4 linked regions of the Homo sapiens genome follow. The protein of the gene in region 4 interacts with the protein of the main gene of each other region in a pairwise test. Each region holds a gene or a part of one and is shown on either strand. Other genes may lie near its edges.

Region 1 (3,500 bases), on a different chromosome or scaffold from region 4:
CACAAACATGGTCTCTTCATGTACCTGAGGCCAGCGAAAGCTACTGTCTAGTAAGCAGCCTTTTTGAGTTCTTTGCATATGGAGTTCCTTCTGTTTTATCTGACTAATTATCTTAGCTTGCAATTGGCCCCAGCATCCAGTATGTAACTCGAAATAGCAGTCATTAAATGTTTGTTCAATGTAGAATAACATTAAGTATTATTGTACATATTACAATATTTTAGAAGTCATAAGAGCTTAAATTTATCAAAAAGCGAGTGAATGGGAACGCAAAGATGAAAATCTTATTTATTTATTTTTGAGACAGGGTTTCACTTCCATTGCCCAGGCTGGAGTGCAGTGGTGTGCTCTTGGTCACTACCACCTCCACCTCCCGGGCACAAGCTATCCTCCTGCCTCAGCCTCCCAAGTAACTAAAACTGCAGGAGCACACCACAACGTCTGGCTAATTTTTGTATTTTTAGTAGAGATGGGGTTTCACCATGTTGGCCAGGCTGGTCTCAAACTCCTGACCTCAAGTGATCCGCCTGCCTCAGCCCCACGAAGTCCTGGGATTACAGGTGTGAGCCACCATGCCTGGTTGAAAACCTTAATGTTAGACTCTTAAATATAGCATTTCCTATCTTAACCCACAAACCTCAAGAACAAATGGTATTACTACTGTTTTAAAATCCACTTCAGAAAATATTCTTTTGAACACTTAATTCCTTGGTAAAACACTATGCTTAAAAATACAGTGATGAGAGGTACTATTACCTCCTACAACAAAGTAATAACTTACCAAAGTCTTAACATAATCTACTTTTTAAAGATAACCAACTACAATTTAACTACTGAAAAACTTTATACATGAAAGCAATACAGCTTGAAAAGCTCAATTCAAATGACTGTAAGTACATTTATTCAGGCTGTTTTTGTACTGATACATAATAACTGTACATATTTATGGGGTACAAGTGATATTTTGCTACATGCATACATGCATATGATGTGCAATGATCAACTCAGTGTAACTGGGATATTCGTCACCTCATTTATCATTTATTTATATTGAGAACATTCCAAATTTTCTCTCCTATTTTGAAATATACACTAAAATTACTGATAACAATAGTCACCCTATTATGCTATTGAATACTAGAACTTTTTCTATATAACCGTACTATAGTGCCCATTAACCAACCTCTCTTCATTCTCTCCCTCCCTACCCTTCCTGGCCTCTGGTAACTACCATTTGACTATCTCCATGAGATCAACTTTTTTAGTTCCCACATATGAATGAGTACATAGAATATTTCTCTGTCAATTAAGGCTGATTTTATATGAAGAAAGATAAAATACAGAAGAATCAAACAAGAAACTTAAAAAAAATTTTACATGTGCTAGTCTCTATAGATCTGTTTGATATATGTTCAGCTATTACAGATATTTTAGATACTTTGAAAGGAAAATATTACTAACTGTAAATAATGTGCAAAAAAAATTTTTTTTTTTTTTTTTTGAGACAGCGTCTCGCTCTGTTTCCCAGGCTGGAGTGTGTGTCGTGTTAGCTCACTGCAATCTCCACTGCCCGGGTTCAAGCGATTCTCGTGCCTCAGTGACCTCCCGAGTAGCTGGGATTATAGGCGCACGCCACCACACCCAGCTAATTTTTGTATTTTAGTAGAGATGGGGTTTCACCGTGTTGGTCAGGTTGGTCTCAAGCTCCTGACCTCAGGTGATCCACCCACCTTGGCCTCTCAAAGTGCTGGGATTACAGGCGTGAGCCACCGTGCCTGACCAAATAAAATAATTTAAAATATATTTTTTTTTTAATGAGATAGTCTCACTCTGTCACCCAGGCTGATGTGCAGTGGCATGATCTTGGCTCACTGCAACCTCTGCCTCCCAGGTTCAAGTGATTCTTGTGCCTCCGCCACCCAAATAGCTGGGATTATGGACGTGCGCCACCACACCAAGCAAATTTTTGTATAAAATAATGTATTTTATTCAGCATATTATTTATTTTTGTCTTAGGATTATAAAAAATAACATTTATGTATTTATTTGGTAAATGTATCTCTTTTTTGGTATGTAAATACATAGGCTGTAAATGCTTAAAAAATAAGGCTATATTGCATTTTTCACTTAATGGTATGTCAGATTATTATATTATTTCCCCAACTCCTTAATATCAGTTGGAAACATAAATTTTAATGGCTGCATCTACCTATCATGTTCCCCACTCACAATATAAGAGATACAAGGGGGCTGGGCGTGGTGGCTTACGCCTGTAATTCCAGCACTAAGGGAGGCTGAGGTGGGCAGATCACTTGAGGTCAGGAGTTCGTGACCAGCCTGGCCAACATGGTGAAATCCCAACTCTACTAAAAATACAGAAAATTAGCTGGGCATGGTGGCACACGCCTGTAATCCCAGCTACTCAGGAGGCTGAGGCAGGAGAATCACTTAAATCCCGGAAGTGGAGGTGGCAGTGAGGTAAGATCTCACCACTGCACTCCAGCCTGGGAGACAGAGAAGAGACTCTATCTCAAAAAAATAAAAAAAATAAAAAATAAAAGAAAAAGAGAGATACAAGGGCAGGGACCTTATTTGTCTGATCATCTGTGTCCCCAGTGTCTATATAACGTCTGGCTCAATTTATTTAACTTACTTTTGTTTGAAGTGTTTAATTTACAGTTCAGTTTATTGAGCTTTGTGCTTTTTGTTTGTTTGTTTTTGAGATGGAGTCTCGCTCTGTCGCCCAAGCTGGAGTGCAGTGGCATGATCTTGGCTCACTGCAACCTCTGCCTCCCGGGTTCAAGCGATTCTCCTGCCTCAGCCTTCTGAGTCACTAGGATTACAGGTGCCTGCCAAAACGCCCTGCTAATTTTTATATTTTTAGTAGAGATGGGGTTTCACCATGTTGGCCAGGCTGGTCTCAAACTCCCATCTGCCTGCCTCAGCCTCCCAAAGTGCTGAGATTACAGGCATTAGCCACCGCACCTGGCCAAGCTTTGTGTTTGTGAAGCGCTCAGTTTGATGAGTTTTGTAACTATATGGACCTATAAACACCACCTAAGACAAAATACATTTCCATTGCCCCAGAAAGTTTGCTCTTGTAGTACTTTCCCAATCAATCCCCCCCTTCTGATTTTTATTAAGTGCTTACTAAACATTTTCTGAAAGAATAAATCAATTTCTCATTGTTAAACAAATTTTTACTATATAATTATTACTATAAAAATTAAATATTTACTATATAATTATTAAGTATCTACTAATATGGTTTGGCTCTGTGTCCCCATCCAAATCTCATCTCAAATTGTAATCCCATAATCCCCACGTCAAGGGAGGAACCTGGTGGTTGGTGATTAAATCATCAAGGCAATCTCCCCCATGCTGTTCTCCTGATAGTGAGTTCTCATGAGATCTGGTTTTAAAATGGGCTCTTCCTGCTTTGCTCTTCACTCTTCTCTCCTGCCTCGTGAAAAAGGTGCCCCTTCCACCATAATTGTAAG
Region 2 (3,500 bases), on a different chromosome or scaffold from region 4:
GTTTCTGAGCAACAATACAAACATGCAGTGACAAAGGGCTAGAAATTTAGATTTTTCATAATCTAAGGCATGGAACACCCTTAAGAAGGAGTTTTCAAGCAATTGCTTCATGAGTATAAAATTACAACCAGATAACATTTGTAAAATAAAGCTTAAATCACTTTTCAGTTTGAGCTTAGACAGAATGTGATACATGCATGTTAATTTTACTGGCATCTGAAAATACCGACAGGCTGACTAAAAAGGTCCGGATTAAATTAAGGCTATACTTTATTAATATTTTTCCAGGGTAATGGTAACATTTTTCCAGGGTAAACTGCTTTAGAAGGGGAACTTGATTGGAAAGTTCCCGTTGTAGAGCAATTGTTTGGGTGCCTTCAGCTCATATTGGACCATGTTGGACTGAGGTCCATTGGCAGTGAGGAAATTCTGCAACATCTCTGAAGCCCAAATCTCCTTTGACACCATCCTTAGAAGGGATGGAACATACAAGTCACTATCATGGTTCTTATTCCCATGGCCTGCTAATTTTCAGTCTCCTGCTTCTGTAGGTTACACGTTGTAAAAGCAATCTCAGTATATCCATGTCTTCAAAAAACCAGGGTCACTCCTTCTAACTTCTTTTTATCAGTTCTTAGGTAGAAGTAGAACTTTAAAACCATTGCTAGAGTCAGATTAGCTTGAAAGTGCACTGACTGCCTTTGTGAATCCCCCATCCCTTAACAAAGACTAATACTTTGTTCATTAGTATCTTCAGTCCCTGCTGCTCTGCTCAGAGATGTTGGCTCTCTATGAATTCCTGAGAACTATATCACATTGATCAGTACTACCCAATCCCCTTCCCCATTCCATGAACAAGACCTTTAATCCAGAAATGTAGAAATATATGAAATACTGCTTCATATTGCTTTGTATTATACTGATTCAGATAATACTGTCGATCAAATAATGCTTAGCTAAACATAGCTCTATATGATAAAAAATCAATAAAAAAGAATATGTTTTACCTAAAGAATAGTATGTTAGCCTCTAGCTCCAACACCAACAAAAGAAAATATTCCTATTAGATTTGTTAAGTGGTCTTTATGCAATTGCCAGTGGTTTTAGAGAGAATATTTAAATAAGGCACATCTACTACTCAAAAAGAAGTTTTAATCAGCGACTTCATGAGTATGAAAGTTGCTTCTTCATAATCATGAATCAGAATGACTGAAAACTCACTAAGGTCATGCAAACCCAAGAAGGTGTTTCTCTGGTGTTATTCTGGAGGCCTGAATGAACTGTGATGTGACATCATAGCTCAAAGGTAAAAAAATGTCAGTGGGATAGAATTATCTTTTCTTTGATAGGCCATAGTCCCACGGTCCCCAGTTTAGAGGGCAGTGCCAATTCCTTTAGGCTGTTCTCCTTAATGCCTCAGGATGTCATGTGTCTCTGCTCCCCCAAATCTATATTTAATAATAATGAAAAGATGTAATATCAGAGTACACTTGGGATTGAGGATGTCTGACTTACCCAGGCTAGGCCTTAACTGCTCCACCTCCTGCTCATTTTGTGCTGGTGAGGGTACAAAGGGAGTGCTAATAAGTAGCTTATTTATAGGCCTGCTGTCCTACGCATCACTGGTAACTGGTATAAATATGGTATAAAAATTGATGTTTCTTAAAAGAAATGATTTTGGTTTAAATGTATGTCTTTGAAAATCATGGCACACCCTCCATATAAACAACTTTGAGTGCTCTCTGGTGACATCTGAGTAAAAAGGATTTAGGGTATGGTTATGGGTGAGGTACATGTGTATATATGAGGTATATGTGTATAAACAAATGAGTGAGAAAATAATGTTTAGGGAAAAAGGGAAGTTAGTGTCTTCTGGAGGCATTTAGAATGCATAGTATTTGGAATTACAACAAAAGAAACTTGACATAAAAGAATAACCATGATACAAATATCTACAAATATAGCTAAATTTAAGATGATTAATATTTACCATATATAATAAAGTATAGGGTTAGCATTTTTTTTTTTAATTATACCAACCTTTGTGTCTTTTCCAAAGACTTTGGAATGAAAACAAATCCAGTTTTCTGATACAAAGAGCTTTCCTTGGTATAGTATTTCTTTCTGTAGAGCACAGGTAAAGCCTGGGAAAATATACACAGGCACAGCATCATTTAGAATTTCCACTTAAAATAAAAACCGTGTATATATTTTGGTGACTCAAGGATGGGCAGAGATAATACATTCACACTCAAAAGTTTTATTACCTCTTCTTCTGTCATCTTTATGGAAAGAAAGCTGTGGCAACCAGTTTGCTTTTAAGTTCAAAGTCTTACCAACTTCAGTATAAATATCAGAATGAAAAGGCAAATCTACCATTGTACCTGAGAGACCAAGAATGGGGTCTTACAAGTCTCCTCTATTTAGCCTGGTGTGTCACCATGTGCTGATATTAGTACACCTGTTCCCCTTTTCCCCAGTATTTTCAGGAATGACTGTTTTCAAAATACATGGCCTCACTAGGGGAAGAGCACATAACCCACACCTCCTGTTTGAAGGTCATGGCAGGAACCCAGCATCTTGCCTCAACTTTTGCACATCAAGAGAGGCTAGAATGGAACTTTGGGCCCCTTGATGAACCACTGCAGAGTCTAGTAGGCGTGCTTAACTAGCATGCTGGGCAAGATATTTAGGTGACTATCTTACCCTTCATAGTGGCATCAGCACATGTCTGTCCATGTCTAAGGATGTGAGTTTTCTTTTAGCCTTCTTCTAGTGGCCTCTCTTGCCCCAGGCTTGTTATCCTAAATCTTAAAGCAATGTAACCATGTGCATTTCAGCAATAAATAAAGAAGGGAAGGGCATCACGGAACCATCTTGGGTGACTCCATACCCCATGGAGAACTGTTTCTTTTTCTCCTCTGTGATCTTTTCACGCTGCCTGGTGAAAGCTGACTGAAGCTGGTGTTATTGTTATGTTATTACTTTCAGAAACCTGATCCCCTTGGTGACTCAGTCCATGGACTATGCCCTTTTTCTTCCCCAAAACTAATGATCAACTTTTCAAATATGTAGCTTAAAAAGTCAAACAGGTCAGAACTTACTTTGCTTCAGTGGTTCCTCCGTTGGGACACTAAGAAACAACTTGTGAAAGTGCATATTGGCCTTGTACTACAATGAGAACAAAATACAAGCATCACCATTCTCACTTTCTTGTGAAACATCACAAATTCAACTTCAACAACAAATTTTCCCTCCCTTAATAGTATCTTTAGGAATTCCTTCTCACTGATCTTACAGTCTCTGACACAAGCCTTCAGTAAAACACAGTGAAAGTCTGGGCACACAGTTTCATTTTCTAACAAGTTTAATGCTTTGCTGGTTGGATATAATGATGCAGCTGCTGGTCAGCCTACTGCCGAGGTAACAGGGCTGGACAAGGATGTCCCTGATGAGAAATGGGATGAAATTCTAAGGAATCTCATTAGGGAAGATACTGG
Region 3 (4,250 bases), on a different chromosome or scaffold from region 4:
CTGGCAGGAAAAAGCGATTGTAAGCCAGGCACGGTGGCTCACACCTGTAATCCCAGCACTTTGGGAGGCCGAGGCAGGCAGATCACGAGGTCAGGAGTTCGAGACCAGCCTGGCCAACATGGTGAAACCCCGTCTCTACTAAAAATACAAAAAATTAGCCGGGCGTGGTTCTGGGCACCCGTAATCCTAGCTACTCAGGAGGCTGAGGCAGGAGAATCACTTGAATCCAGGAAGCAGAAGTTGCAGTGAGCTGAGATCTCGTCACTGCACTCCAGCCTGGGCAACAGAGCGAGATTCTGTCTCAAAAAGCAAGCAAGCAAGCAAGCAAGCAAGCAAGCAAGAGAAAAGAAAAAGAAGAAAAGAAAAGAAAAGAAAAGAAGCCATTGAGATTGTACCAGCCAAACATGGGCCCCCGAACCTGGCCGGGAAGAGGTGTGCACATGTGCACAGCGGGCCCTGTGGCACACTCAGCTCATGGACAGAGCAGCCACTTGTACCACTTCATTCCCTTCAACACAGAGCTTCCAGACTCTGTTTTCTTCTCAGGTCCTTACAACCAGGAACATGGGGGAAAGTCACCATTTTCTACCCACTGCTTGCCTCCATCTTCCCAGTGAGTCTCAAATCCCTTTTCCTTGAATTCTCTGCCTTCTGAACAAATTTGCCTTCCCTCCTCTGACTCTAGGGCCTCACTAGAAATTGCCACTCCAAGTCAGACCCTCTCCAGAACTTAGGTCCTTGATGTGTAACTTACTGTGTCACCAGGCAAGTCACTCTGTGTTTCTGTAGCTCAGTTTTCTCATCTGTAAAATGGGAACAATATCCCTACTTCATTTTATTTTTTATTTTTTAAATTTTAATTTAATTTAAATTTTATTTTTATTTATTTATTTGTTTTCAGACGGAGTCTCGCTCTATTGCCCAGGCTGGAGTGCAGTGATGCCATCTCGGCTGACTGCAACCTCTGCCTCCCAGGTTCAAGTGATTCTCCTGCCTCGGCCTCCCAAGTAGCTGGGACTACAGGCATGCGCCACCATGCCTGGCTAATTTTTGTATTTTTAATAGAGACAAGGTTTCACCATGTTGGCCAGGTTGGTCCTGAACTCCTGACCTCAAGTGATCTACCCACCTCGGCCTCCCAAATTGCTGGGATTACAGGCGTGAGCCACCGTGCCTGGCCCAATATCCCTACTTCATAGGGTTGTTGTAAGAATAAAAAGAGAGGCCAGGCATGGTGGCTCACGCCTAATCCCAGCACTTTGGGAGGCCTAGGTGGGTGGATCACGAGGTCAAGAGATGGAGACCATCCTGGCCAACATGGTGAAACCCTGTCTCTACTAAAAATACAAAAATTAGCTGGGTGCAGTGGTGCGTGCCTGTAATCCCACCTACTTGGGAGGCTGAGGCAGGAGAATCGCTTGAACCCGGGAGGCGGAGGTTGCAGTGAGCTGAGATCGCGCCACTGCACTCCAGCCTGGCAACAGAGCGAGACTCTGTCTCAAAAAAAAAAAAAAAAAAGAATGAAAAGAGATATTATGTGAAAGGGTGACAGTGATTGGCACATTGTGTGAAGTAAGTGTTAAATATTGTATGCATGTGCACACAAATAGACAAATGCATCTCTGACCCACCCCTTAACATGTTGCAGTCCTATCTTGCTCAGCCACCCACCTCTGTACGCAGACAGCACTGAGATCTTCTAATTAATACACATTTCAGTCCAAAATGATGTCATTTTCTCTGAAAAACAAATAAACCTCTCTGCAAAATAGTTGTTCCTACTGCTTCTTGGTTTGGGTTTTCTAACTCCCCAGGGTCATAAAACTTATCTCCATGGGTGTTGTGAAGCTTTCCAAGTGAATTAATTGGAGTTTGTTTATTAAAAAATAACAACAGCATTTTCAGATGAGAATGGAAGAGGCTGACGCAGAGTGAAAAACAGAGTTAGATAACCCAGTTCCCCAAAGACGGGGGATCTTGGAGAGAGCTGTGATCCTTCTTTCCTTCCTTTCTCCCCCTCTCTCCGTCTCTCTTTCTGCCCCTCTTCCCCCCACAGTTCTTTTCCTTTTAGTGACAGCAGCAACTACTCAGAGACTCCTAATCCCTTTTGCAGAGGACGGAAATGTTTAGAAAACTTCACTCTGGGTTGGCAGTTCCCCAAAGGGAAGCTCTCTTTCTGGAATATTCCTCTGTGCCCAGAATGAGAGACCTTGTCTTGGGTTGGGTTTCTTTTGGGGTCACGAGTCCCTGCAGCTCCCCTTCCAGTGACTTCAGCTGCCAGCATGGAGTGGAGACCCCAGACTTGGAGGCTGCACCAAGGTCTCAGCATCTTGGAGTCTGTCCAGATCTGGGATGAGGGCCTCATTATTCCTATGCTGGATGTACTCATCTTTATGGGGTATTCTCCACTCCTCCCTCCAGGCTATTCCATTCCCTGGGATTCTGAGGGTTGTTGGATATAGAAGATGGGACCCTTTTTAGGCTTCCTTACAGCCTGGGGCTCTCTCCAAGTTTCCAAGATGAGCTTGCTCACCAGACCCAGTTTTCTGAGACTCAGCATGCCCAGGTCCTCCCAGCAGCTCCAGAGCAGGAATGGGCAGCTCACTCCTTCTTCTGAGCAGAACTGGGGGGTCCTGAGAGTTCCTAAGTCCAGGAGGGAGGGAAGGGTCTCTGAGCACTCACCGGAGCTGCAGCAGAGAGCCAGTGTGACCAGGGTGAGGGTGACAGCGAGTTTCATGGTGGAGGAGGGGGATGCTCTGGCCCGTCTCTGGTTCCGTCTCTGAGTCTGGTGGGCTAGTATGAGACATGCCCAGCAAGGTGCCTTTTATATGCTCTAGGCAGCAGCACCCAGATGGGGAAGGGCAGGGCAAGGGCTCTACATAAGATACTGCACTATTTACTTGGCATTGGCTTGGTGGGATAGGTAAATATTCCCTTTTCTCAACCCAGTTTCTGTCCCCACTGAAACTGAGCTCACACAATGGGCCACTTGGGGGTGGAGGGCCGAGCCCTGCCTGGAGGCAGTGAAGGGAACCCAAGTCAGAGGATGTGGAAACCCAGCTGCCTGTGTCACTCACTGAACCTGGGCACTGGGGCAGTCCAGATCAAGAGAAGCAATTGTGGAGCCCACCTGGAGAAACTGAGGCCCAAGTTCCCTCACAAGTGGCAGGGACAGGACTAGGACTAGGACTCAGGACCCTGACACTCCACTGGGCTCTTTCATAGGCTCCCCTCTGAGGAGGGCGACTGAACCTTAAGCCAGGAAAGACACATGGTTTGGAGCATTGCTGTGGTCAGACTTCGGGGGCCCCTGGATTGAAGCATGTTGAATAAAAGGGACCCTTCCAGAATTCCCATCAGAAACCTGAGCCCTGCCCCAGGCTGGGTCTGTTCCCACCCAGAAGTGCTCTCAAGTCCTGTGCTCCTGATGGCCCAATTGGTGGGACCTTCAGTCCTTATCTCACTTGACCTCCCAATGGCCTTGACACCTGTGACTGCTTCCTTCTCGAACCATTCTCTCTCTTGCGCTCCCACGCCTCAGTTCTTTCCTGTTTTCCTTCTTCTGGCCATTCCTTCTTGTTCTCTTTAGATGTTTATTCTTTACTGTTCTTAAGTGTTGATGGTTCCCAGGCTTTGGCCTTCTCCCCTTTCTTGCCTCCAGTTGCCATTTCCTGGTTCTTCTCCAAAGCCCGGGCCTCATAGCACCTAACCTGGCCTGGTCAAAATCCCCTGACTCGACCTCCCTGCCTCCCTGCTAGCTCTCCTCAGCCATCCTCTGAAAGGCCATCAGAATGATCTTCCTAAAACCCACTGGTCGTGTCCTTCTTCTTGAAACCCTTAAACTCTTCCTTTTGCCTAAAGAATAAAATTCAAGTGCAATTTACAAGGCCCTTGCCCACTGACCTTTGCCTACCATTTGAACTTCATTTCTCCTCTCCCCCACACAACGACTTAGCCCTCTCTTACTATTTGTGGATTCGAGAATGTTCCATGTTTTTTCATGCCTTTCTACCTATGCACAAGCTAAGCCTCATGCCTGAATACACATTTCCTGCCTTGTCCACTTCGCCAAATTCTATTCGTACTTCAAGACTCAATCAAATATTGATCCATTCATTCATCCAATAAATGCTGACCACCTATGATGTGCCAGATGTGGTGCTAGGAGTCGGGAACTGGGGTAGATAGACATGGAGAGGCATTGCGTGGCACTTCAAGAACTCCTCAAAAATAAATAAATAAATAAAAAT
Region 4 (3,500 bases):
AATAAAGGATAACATTCACGTCAGCCCAGAAAGCCTGGCTCAGGGGAAGCTGGACTGGAAGAGGAAGAAATAGAGAAGGGGACAAGGGTGGAGAGCCCTACACTGCTTTGCAGGGGAGAATCGAGGACACTCCCTGTCCCAGGTTCTTTACACACAGTGCCTGTGACTGTGACCCTCACAGTACAGGCCTGGGCTGCATGGCCCAATGGCATGGTGCCAACAGCGTACAGGGTGTTCAAATAACAGGAAAGCTCTGGTGCCCAGGGTAGTTTTGTGGCCTTGCACTGGACACACATGGTCATCAGAGTCATGAGAGCACCTCCCTGAGTGCCAGCCACTGTACCAAGGCGTTAGTTACCTAATCTCACCAAATCCTCAAGGCTGGCCACAAGCTTGTAACCATTACCGTCCCCATTTTATACACGAAGACACTGAGACTCAGGATAGACAAGTCCACACAGCTGCTGAGTGGTAAAGTCGGGAATCACTCCCATGTGTGACCATCTCCAAGGCCCATGCTTTCAAATCCTCAGCCAGACAACATCCAGGATGAGCCCCGAGCCACTGGCAGGTCAGCATCCCCTGCCAAACCTACCTTGGATGTCCGTAAGGCGCCAATGATGTGCACCAGCCTTCCTTCATTCTCCGGAGCCACACTGTGGATGCTGTCGGGAGACACCACAAGCGAGAGCCCCTCAGCCAATGAGGTTGCCGTCTTCAATGCGCGGCCCTGGGAGCAAAGGGGAGTGGGGATTTCAACAGCTCAGGGGTGGCTCAGCATGACTGTGCTTGTTGCAAAGTATTAGGGTAGGATGGGGCCTCCGGGAGCGCTGAGACCCATCTCCCCACCGTACAGTTGGAAAACTGAGGTCTAGCAAGTGGAGAGTAAGGACTGGAACCCAGATTCCTGCTTTCCCAGGGAGACTTCTTCCTACTGCCCCATTGGTTCCCACTAGCCCCCACCAATCTTAGCACTGCCCCAGTGGTGGGAACAGCTGATGTTTCTGCCTGCCTGTCCCTTTCTCCCCATTTTTCTCTGCCTTCTTTTTTTTAATTTTATTTTTATGTTTAAGTTTTTTGTAGAAATGGGGTCTTGCTATGTTGCCCAGGCTGCTTTCGAACTTCTGACCTCAAGCGATCCTGCCTCCTTGGCCTCCCAAAGTGCTGGGGTTACAGGCTTGAGCCTCCATGCCTGGCTCTCCTCTCTCCTACTCAGCCCATGTGGTTTACCTGAGTCTATCTGAACCCTGGTCAGATTATGGGACCCAGACCTTGCCAGTCAGAACATGTGAGTGCGCCCTGGACACGGAGACTGATTCAGAGGACGGAGAGCCAAGCCAGGACACTGAGAGATGGCCCTGTAACTGCTGCTAAATTGATTTAGAAATATACTGTTGCATCATGAGGCCCTATTAAAAAAAAGGAGAAAAAGAAAGAGAGAGGGAGAGAAAGAAAGAAACAAACAAACAAGAAAGAGAGAAAGAGAGAGACAAAGGAAGGAAGGAAGAAAGGAACAAAGGAAGGGAGGGAGGGAGGGAGGGGAAAGAAAGGAAAAGAAAGAAAGGAAGAGAAACAGATGGTTTTTCTCTTCCCTGGGCTAAGTGGTTGGATGTAGGCCAGTTGCTGGGGCCACATTTGCCATCACAGATGAAGTGCCTGCCCAAGAAAAACACCATAATAGAGAAAAACAGGCAAAAGATGAAGAAATGGAGATTCCTGGTGACCCAGCATGAACACCTGGATCCAACTACGCCTGAGGCAGGTGCTAACCCCTGGATATTCAGGTGTGTGAACTGATCTACTCCCCTTCCTGCTCACATCAGCTGTGGGATGGATCACAATGGAAAGAACTGTGATTAACTCAGTATCCTCCTTTCTCTTTTTAAAATCTAGGCCCTTGATTACCAAATCCAGCCTCCGGGTTCATCGCCTTTGCTCTCTGACATGGTGGGGACTCTCACTCTGCACAGGAAGACCCCAGACATTTTACCTCATTGGTGAAAATTAGGTAGAAGGAGAGCAGGAAGGCCATGAGCCCCACAAACATCCCACCCGAGGTCTCGCTCAGCCGTTCCAGGAAGCCTGGCTGGGAGCTGGTTTTAACTTTGACATGTTCTCTCCGGGTACTGGTACTGGAATACTGAAGAAAAAGAAACAGTAACAGAATGAAAACTAGTTTTTAAAAATAAATTAAATTTGCTATTTATTTATACTCAATTTTTTTTTTTTTTTTTTTTTTTTTTTAGTTTTAACTGTATGTGGTAAAAACACACAGATATTCAATGTACAGTTTGGCAGGTTTCCACAAACGTATATTCCATCTGACCAACATCTAAAGCAAGGTACAAAATATTTCCATCACCCCAAAAAGTTTCTTTGTGCCCCTTTCCTGCCAATTCTCCCCCTCTCCACCAACCAGAGGTAACTGGTGGGGATGGGGAGAATCTGAATTTGAATTTCTCCTACCGTAGATTAGTTTGTTTCTTCTACAACTTGAGAAAAATGGAATCAGGGCACCAACTCCTTTCTGCCCAGCTTCTTGGACTCAGAGCACTGCTTTTGCAATTCATTCATGTTGTGGTGTTTATCAGGAATTTGTTCCTTTTCATGGCTGAGTAGTATTCCATTTATGACTATACCACAGTGTGCTGAATCATTCGTCAGTGGATGGGTATCTTGACAGCTTCCAGGTTTTGGCTGTTATGAATAATGCTGCTGTGAATATTCATACATGAACCTTTATGCAGACATGTGCTTTCATTTCCCGTAGGAATATACCTAGGAGTACAACTGCTGGCTCGTGAAGAAGATGTACGTTTAACTTTTTATGAAACTGCCAAGCTATTTTACAAAGAGGTTATTAGAGATGTATTTTTAATTAAATTCAGCAAACAGTGGCTGAGCTTTCTGAGGGCAGTGCTAGCCCTTGTGGGGTCAGAAGTAGACAGTCTTAGGGCAGTGAGGTCACAACCATAAACAATACTAGAAGGTCACACAGAGGGTCCTGTGATGGGGGTGGACTTGGTGCTCAAGGAGTGACCCCTTCCACCTGGGGTATCAAGGAGGCTCCCTTGAGTGGAATCTTAGAGGCAGATCTTAGGGGAAGAGCATCCCTAAAGGGAGAACCGTATCAGCAGTGATGAGGAAGTAGGAAGTGGTTCTGGGGGAGCAGCTGCCTGTCTGCTTTGGCTGGGTGGGAGCAGTGGAGGAAGAAAGGGCTTGGAGGTAGGCATTTCTGGGCAGGTTCACAGTGGGCCTCAAACTCAAGGGTGAGTGGATCAGGCTTTGGTCAATAACAGAGGCATGATTTGGGGTGCATCCACTGCTGATCAAAAGTGTCATCGTCTAGGGCAGGATTCTGGAGCCAGAAGAACTGGGTTTGCATTTATGCTCTGCCACATACCAGCTACGGGGTCTTGGGCAAGCAACTTCACCACTTTGTGCCTTCCATTTCCTCTGTGCATAGGGTTGTGGTGAGAACCAAAGAACACAGTTATTGG

Evidence for each region. Proteins that work in one complex are often made in the same cells at the same time.
Region 1: the proteins of TMEM43 (region 4) and CISD2 interact in binary tests that used the Homo sapiens proteins (3 or more experiments, as listed by UniProt).
Region 2: the proteins of TMEM43 (region 4) and GRAMD2B interact in binary tests that used the Homo sapiens proteins (3 or more experiments, as listed by UniProt).
Region 3: the proteins of TMEM43 (region 4) and SCGB1A1 interact in binary tests that used the Homo sapiens proteins (3 or more experiments, as listed by UniProt).

The regions. Positions count from the first base shown.
Region 1 is NC_000004.12:102,878,992-102,882,491, reverse strand, and holds part of CISD2 (CDGSH iron-sulfur domain-containing protein 2), read right to left. Parts: intron 1-3,500. UniProt on the Homo sapiens protein: Regulator of autophagy that contributes to antagonize BECN1-mediated cellular autophagy at the endoplasmic reticulum.
Region 2 is NC_000005.10:126,471,909-126,475,408, reverse strand, and holds part of GRAMD2B (GRAM domain-containing protein 2B), read right to left. Parts: intron 3,172-3,500; coding exon 3,105-3,171; intron 2,145-3,104; coding exon 2,041-2,144; intron 1-2,040.
Region 3 is NC_000011.10:62,417,583-62,421,832, reverse strand, and holds the start of SCGB1A1 (uteroglobin precursor), read right to left. Parts: upstream 2,801-4,250; 5' UTR 2,738-2,800; coding exon 2,683-2,737; intron 1-2,682. UniProt on the Homo sapiens protein: Binds phosphatidylcholine, phosphatidylinositol, polychlorinated biphenyls (PCB) and weakly progesterone, potent inhibitor of phospholipase A2.
Region 4 is NC_000003.12:14,128,052-14,131,551, reverse strand, and holds part of TMEM43 (transmembrane protein 43), read right to left. Parts: intron 2,141-3,500; coding exon 1,991-2,140; intron 731-1,990; coding exon 596-730; intron 1-595. UniProt on the Homo sapiens protein: May have an important role in maintaining nuclear envelope structure by organizing protein complexes at the inner nuclear membrane. Required for retaining emerin at the inner nuclear membrane.